Homo sapiens: one gene and its partner. The protein of the gene in region 1 purifies or fractionates together with the protein of each later gene. This does not show direct contact. Each region holds a gene or a part of one and is shown in the gene's direction. Other genes may lie near its edges. The genes, in order: PTGES3L-AARSD1 and SEPTIN2.

Region 1 (3,818 bases):
ATAATATATATTTTATATATTATATTATATATTATATAATATATATTTTATATATTATATTATATATTATATAATATATATTTTATATATTATATTATATATTATATAATATATATTTTATATATTATATTATATATTATATAATATATATTTTATATATTATATTATATATTATATAATATATATTTTATATATTATATTATATATTATATAATATATATTTTATATATATGTAAAGACCTTGTCTTTAGGACAAACTATTTTTTTGTAAAGATTTGCTTGTTGCCCAGGCTGCTCTCAAACTCCTGGCCTTAAGCCTCCTTCCTCGGCCTCCCAAAGTGCTGGGATTACAGGCCTGAGCCACCATCCCTGGCCCCATACTGCATTATAAATACTATAATACCTATAATTTATTTTATACTATGTAGTTCTAAGGTATAATTATATAACATACAAAACAATATATAACATGGAACATAAACATATAGTATATATTACTTACATGCAGTATGTTAAAACTTAATTAGCAGATGTGTTGTGTGTGTCTGTGTGTGTACACAACTGGAATCATACCATCCGCATCTTGCATTGTGCCCTTTTTCATTTAATATATATTGGAGATCTTTACAAGTCAGAACATATAGATCTAACTCATTTTTTTCATGGCTATATGGTATTCCATTGAATGTATTTTTCATAATTTCACAGGTTCTTTATTGAGGGACACGTAGGTCGTTAGTCTTTTACCATATTCTTTTTTTTTGAGACGAAGTCTCGCTCTTGTCCCCCAGGCTGGAATGCGACGGCGTGGTCTCAGCTCACTGCAACCTCCGCATCCCGGGTTCAAGCGATTCTCTTGCCTCGGCTCCCCTAGTAGCTGGGATTACAGGCGCCTGCCACCAGGCCCAGCTAATTTTTGTATTTTTAGTAGAGACGGGGTTTTACCACGTTGGCCAGGCTGGTCTAGAACTCCTGACCTCAGGTGATCCACCTGCCTCGGCCTCCCAAAGTGCCGGGATTACAGGCATGAGCCACCGCGTCCGGCAGTCTTTTACCATTTGCAAACAATATTGCAATCAACATTTAAAAATGTGGATCTTTACATATTTTTGCCAGGATATCTGTAGGGTACATTTCTAGAAGTAGAATTGCTAGGTCAAGGAGTAGATAAAATACATTTAAACATTTTGATAGCTGTTACCAAGTTGCTCTTTGATGAAATTGTACCAATTCTCACTCCTACGAACAATGAGAGTGTTCCATTCTCTAAATCGTTTCAGATATTTGACAAGATAAAAATTAGCACCTGGTTTAATTTGCTTTTTTTTTTTTTTTTTTTTTTTTTTTTTTTGAGACGAAGTCTCGCTTTGTCAGCCAGGCTGGAGTGCAGTATCGCGATCTCAGTTCACGGCAACCTCCGCCTGCCAGGTTCAAGCGATTCTCCTGCTTCAGCCTCCTTAGAAGCTGGGATGTAATCCCAGCCTGTAGGTGCCCGCCACCACACCGAGCTAATTTTTGTATTTTTAGTAGACACAGGGTTTTGCCATGTTGGCCAGGCTGGTATCGAACTTCTGGCCTCAGCTGATCCAGGCACCTCGGCCTCCCAAACTGCTGGGATTACAGATGTGAGCCACTGTGTCTGGCCCAAACTATTTTAATGTAATGTAATGTAATTTTCTTGAGACGTAGTCTCGCTGGGTTACCCAGGCTGGAGTGCAGTGGTACGATTTCGGCTCACTGCAACCTCCTCCTCTCGGGTTAAAGTGATTCTCCTGCCTCAGCCTCCCGTGTAGCTGGGATTATATAGGCGTGTGCCACCACGCCTGGCTAATGTTTTTGTGTTTTTAGTAGAAACAGGGTTTCACCATGTTGGCCACGCTGGCCAAATTGTTCTTCTTTTTTTTTTTTTTTTTTTTTTTTGAGACGGAGTCTCGCTCTGTCGCCCAGGCTGGAGTGCAATGGTGCGATCTCGGCTCACTGCAAGCTCCGCCTCCCAGGTTCACGCCATTCTCCTGCCTCAGCCTCCGGAGTAGCTGGGACTACAGGCGTCCGCCACCACGCCCGGCTAATTTTTTGTATTTTTAGTAGAGACGGGATTTCACCGCGTTAGTCAGGATGGTCTCGATATCCTGACCTCGTGATCCGCCCGCCTCGGCCTCCCAAAGTGCTGGGATTACAGGCGTGAGTCACCGCGCTCGGCCTTTTTTTTTTTTTTTTTTTTTTTTTTTAATTGAGACGGAGTCTCGCTCTGTCGCCCAGGCTGGAGTGCAGTGGTGCAATCTCTGCTCACTGCAACCCCGCCTCCCGGGTTCCAGCGATTCTCCTGCCTCAGCCTCCCGGGTAGCTGGGATTACAGGCGCCCGCCACCACGCCCGGCTAATTTTTGTATTTTTAGTAGAGACGGAGTTTCGCTATGTTGGCCAGGCTGGTCTCGAACTCCTGGCCTGAGGTGATCCACCCGCCTCGACCTCCCAAAATGCTGGGATTACAGGCGTGAGCCACCTCCCCCAGCTCCTTGCTTTCTATTTCTACTGGGCAGTGCTGCTCAGTAACCATGCCAGTCCCGTCCCCGCCTCTATGCGCTGGGATTCCGCAGCCAGAATACTTACATCCCTGGGGCCCCAAGGGGCTCACTAAACCACGTGCCTTGTCCAGGTCGCGTTTTTTTGTTTTTGTTTGTTTGTTTTTTTCCTCCTGGTCTTGTCCTTTGTAAAGCCTTAGAACAGTCGTTAAACAACCCAGCAAATATGCAATTCGCGTTTTCAGTAAATTTATCCAAACCGCATTCCATTCCTTACCCTCCTGCTTCTGCGCAGACAAGCGCCCTTGATGACGTTTGTCCCACGTCGCTCTCCGTTCGCTCCCAGGCTTCTCTGCGCGTGCGCCTCCTCACACGCCTGCAGGTATGGCGTTCTGGTGTCAGCGTGACAGTTATGCCCGAGAGGTACGGCGTCACGGCGAGGCACTTGAGACTGCCGGGCCGGCAAGGCGGTTTGGGGAAGAGGGCGCCACGTGTAGGGAGTGCCAACATGGCATTCTGTCCTGGTGTGGAGAGGGCTAGGGCTAGGGCTGGGGTCGGGGCTTATTCTCTCATTCCTCTCTGTTCAGTTCACCACCACCGTGGTCTCCTGCTGTCCCGCGGAGCTGCAGACTGAAGGGAGCAACGGCAAGAAAGAAGTGCTGAGCGGTTTCCAAGTGGTGCTGGAAGACACAGTGCTTTTCCCTGAGGGCGGGGGACAGGTACCAAAACGATCTCTTCCCAGGAAGCCCCCAGTTTCTTTGTGCTCAGGCCGAAATGCTCTCCTGCCCCTTTTTTCTCAGCCATAATGAATTCAGATGAGCTTTAGTTTAATTCATTTTGTTATTCATTTAATGAGTATTTATCAGCAATTGCTTATCTAGACATAACATATGCTAGATATTATTCCAGGCTGTAAGGATAACCGGTGAACAACACAGTGCCTTTATATACGTGGAATGTTTATTGAAGACAACTGTGTGTGCTAGGTATAATAAGTAATAAACAAAAACCAAGTAAAGGGAAAGAGAGTGATGGGATGCTTGTCTAGATGAAGGGTAAGTTATTTCAGTAGAGACCTAAACGAAGTGAGGGGGTGAGTCTTTGCAATTATCTAGTGGTGCTGGGGGGCAGAGGGAGTATTCAGGCAGGTAGAATAGCAGGTGCAAAGGCCCCAAGGAAGGAATTAGCTTCGGGTTTTAGGGACTGAAAAAGATGTTCCTGAAGGAGTTCAGGTGAGATAGACGGGTTACAGTAGTACAGCAGAGAGCATATTTATCAGTGCTGTGATGAGGACTAG
Region 2 (3,818 bases), on another chromosome or scaffold:
CAGCTTAAATATGACAGGTTCCTCCTTAAGCCTCATTAATATTTTGCATTTTGAAGTAACTCCATCACTAATCTTAAACAAGGAGAGATTGCTCCTGAAAAACAGAAGCCACTACTTTGCCACCTACTTTCTAGTAAAGATTTTTCATATTTTTGTCTCTTCTTTTTTTTTTAAATAATTTCAACTTTTATTTTATTGGGGTACATTTGCAGGTTATTTTCTAAGCTTGCAAATACCAACATTAGAAGGAAATTATGTATTAAAGCACTTTTATTAGTTGTATTATTGGAAATTTGTTAATTGTTAAAACATCTCTTTAAAGGGAATAAAAACGTGTTATTAAAACAGCTTGTACAGATTAAAAGTAGAGATGGCACAAGGAAGAAGAATTATGTGAGGTAGATAAGGGTTCCCTGGATGGTGACTGCTGACCTCCTGTTCCTCAGATAGCTTTGTCCCGACTGATGGTCATTAGTGAATAGATCTGTCTGGCATGGTGTATGCTGGTCTGCCTGCTTGAAAAGAATCTGCAGACTCCAGAGACTCAGGACCAGGAAAAGGCAGATGCCCACTCCCCTGTATCTTATGTATCTTATGGACAGGCAGGCTCTCTGAACTGTCCAGGTGGCCACTCCCATCACTTGCCAGAGGAAAAGCATGAAAGGTAAAGTTAAGTAATGACCTAAGAGTCCAAAGAAGAGGGTAGGTCACATGGAGCTGGGGTAAAGGCAAACAAACCTCATACAAGAGATCTGATTAGAGCTTGAAAGAGAGTTTGAGTTGGCCAAGATCTGAGGATGAAACGCTGGGAATTTGGTAGAAGGTCTCTACTACAATTCAGGGACCTCATTCTGGAAGCATGAGTGTGTTCATGAAAACAGGGAGGGGACTTGAGCCTTCAACGACATACGGCAGGGTGGGTTAGGCAGAAGGCAGGGAGTCTTGAGGCCTCCACAGCATGTGGACAGGTGGCTGAGGAAGGACCCAGAGTGACTTGCTGGAGCCTTAGTCACCAAACGCTCTTGCAGCTTAGTGGGAAAGGTGTTCATTGTAAAATACGGTATTTACACAAAATGCACAAAAATACGTATGTACAGTTTAATAAGTTACTGTAAGGAAAACATCCATGTCACCCCCAACTGAGTCCAAGTTGGTTGCTTTAGTTTCATCATCACAGTGACACCTTAGAATAGTCCTGAGGGTATGTGCTTAGTTCACACTTTACTGATGAGGAAATTGTTGCCGCTCCGAGAGTTTAAAAGTATTTGCTGATGGTGCCATGACTTTTAAACGATGGCCTGCTGACTCTAGAGGCTGGTCCTGCATAACCAGTTAATGGCATGTGACTGGGGAAGTGAGGGTACAGTGGAAAGAGACAAGGATGCCTCAGCGATGCAGCTCATTTGAAGCAGGAAGCAGTGACAGGTGTTTGCTTATTTTCTCTGAGCTTCATTTTCAACCTTTATGGAATGAAAATTTTACTTTTAGATCGATAAAATTTTATTTCTGTATACTTTCTAGTTTTGCAGCATTTCCAGTTTCCAGGAGCCTCATGAATGGCTTTTTGGTTTAGTTAACTTTGTGGTCATGTAAGCCCTGCCTTTTGCTCAGTTTATGACCTTTGTTAAGGAGAAAAGTAGAACTGTTAATAATTAACGCAGCAGACATTGCCTCACTCCCACTTAAGTGTGTTTTGTTTTCTTTTTTCTAGAAAACACTTTCCTGGATAAAAAAGAAAACATTCCAGATGCATGATCCAGCTGTGTGTTTTCAATCCTTGGGAGGGTGCCATCCACATTTTAACAGTACCTGTGCCTGAGAATTTAATTTTTAAAAGACTTTGATGTGTTTTTGTATGAAGTACTTTTAACGTATGTATTTCATTGCTGTGTCACACTCTGTGTTTTGTGAGGTGAATGTCTTCCTTTTCTTTCTCCCTAACCACTAATGTTAGAATTGATTTCCAAGAATCGGCATGTATACTTAATACTGAATTTCTTTGATTTAACTGACTTAACAACTGACTAACCATTGATGAGCACTCCTGATTTTTATCTAGAACATTCAGATTTACCATAATGTTCCTTAGTGGTAGAGGTGTGTGCCTAGTGATGTAGAAAGATACACTGACTTGGTGCAAGGCCATCTGCTTACCACATCACACCACTTGGAGATCTTTGCTTCCTTGCTTTTATGTTTGTACACAACACCTAAAACCAGTTTTGCTGCTATAATTCTATACTGTTGATTCGTCTGCGATTTTATCTGTTAACCAAATAAAACATAATAGAATTTCCTAATGAGATATATCTTTATACTTAAACAGCTTTTTTAGAGGTGAGTTTTAAAGAAGTCTCTTAATTCTGATGCTAGGTTGTTTTTAAAACCACTATGCAAAGAACTCACCACAAGCCACCTTTTGTAGTGTTCTCCACTAATACTGGTTATCCTGTGCTACAGAGAAAATCAAAGCAGTCATAAGCTCCAGTTTTCGTATTGCAAATAAGACTCTTACCTACAAAATGAGATTCAGTGAACTAATTTGGTTTTTACTCAACCAAATTAAAAATTTTTTTAAGGAAAATTAGCAGTTGGTCTATTCAGAATCAAACCTTTTTATATTTTATACTGCACTTTAGTGTATTTTCTGTCACTGTAGGTATAGAAGATCTGCCTCCCCTGTGGAAATTGGGGTCTGTTGGTGGGCGTGCCCCTGAAGCCTGGCTTGGGTTGAAAAGTGTTCCCGCCCTAAGGCCTTGGTGCCCTGAACCTCTGATGCCTACCGGGTTCTCCTGATTTGAGTTTCCTTTAAATACTCCCTTTTTGAGTAATTTTCTGATGGGAGGAAAGTAGCAGTCATCATCTTTTTGTGTGCAGGCTGTCTCATTTATTTTTAGCCATTGTCGTTTCATTCATTTTGTGTAATATAAACCGTGTGTCATGTCAAAGTGAAAGACATTTCAAATCTGTAGCATAGGCTAGTGGGCAGGTCCGCACAGTCGAAGCCACACCTGGTCTGTTTTCTGTGCACTGTAGCCTTAGTGTCACCTTTCTTCTTGTGTCTCCTTATGGTACACTCCAGCGGTTGCCTTTTTTATCATTTCTACTGAAGTTGGGAAATTCAACCCCAGAAATTGACAGATGAAAGGAGACAATGGTTGTGTAGGGAGATGGAGAAAATGCTTAATCTGAGGATGAGACAGGGTTTTTTCATTTTTGTGGGGGCTAGAAAAAACATAAAATGAGGCAGTTAAATAATAATAGTTAATGAAGGTGTGCTACAGAAAATAATCTGGTGTTCTTGCTAACTTTGCCCTTCACTGTTGCTTAATTGTGAACAGCCAAAAGCTATATGTTATGGCTTATTGTGTGAAGGTAACTAAGAAGTGGTGTTCCATGACTTCAGAGTACATCCATGCGGAGTCCATTATTTGAGTTTGACATTTAATAACTTTGCTGGAAAATCTGTAAAAAAGAAAAACAAGTTTGCTAGTGACTAAGCCCCGCATATGTGAGTGAAAGTACTTCAGGCACGCTGCCTCCTGGTAACAGCTATGCAGGGAGGGAGGACCCACACTGCTACACTTCTGATCCCCTTTGGTTTTACTACCCAAATCTAAATAGATACTTTTGATAATAGATAACTGCTCTTTTACTAAGACATAGTCTCTACCTATAGAAATGTATTTTGAAAACACTTATTTTACACAGCAATTTTGTATCCATTTAAACTAACCTTTTATCAATAAAGCACTATTGTTTAGATATTAAATGAGTATTTCTCTTGGTTATTTGCAAGGGAAAGTTGTGAGGTTTTC

What was found.
Region 2: the proteins of PTGES3L-AARSD1 (region 1) and SEPTIN2 fractionate together in Homo sapiens (co-fractionation; one large-scale study listed by BioGRID). This does not show direct contact.

The regions. Positions count from the first base shown.
Region 1 is NC_000017.11:42,963,528-42,967,345, reverse strand, and holds part of PTGES3L-AARSD1 (PTGES3L-AARSD1 protein), read left to right. Parts: intron 1-2,891; exon of another isoform or gene 2,892-2,905; coding exon of another isoform or gene 2,906-2,944; intron 2,945-3,108; coding exon 3,109-3,240; intron 3,241-3,818. Other genes in the region: alanyl-tRNA editing protein Aarsd1, read left to right, coding at 2,906-2,944, 3,109-3,240. UniProt on the Homo sapiens protein: Functions in trans to edit the amino acid moiety from incorrectly charged tRNA(Ala).
Region 2 is NC_000002.12:241,350,256-241,354,073, forward strand, and holds the end of SEPTIN2 (septin-2), read left to right. Parts: intron 1-1,687; exon of another isoform or gene 1,688-1,711; 3' UTR 1,712-3,772; downstream 3,773-3,818.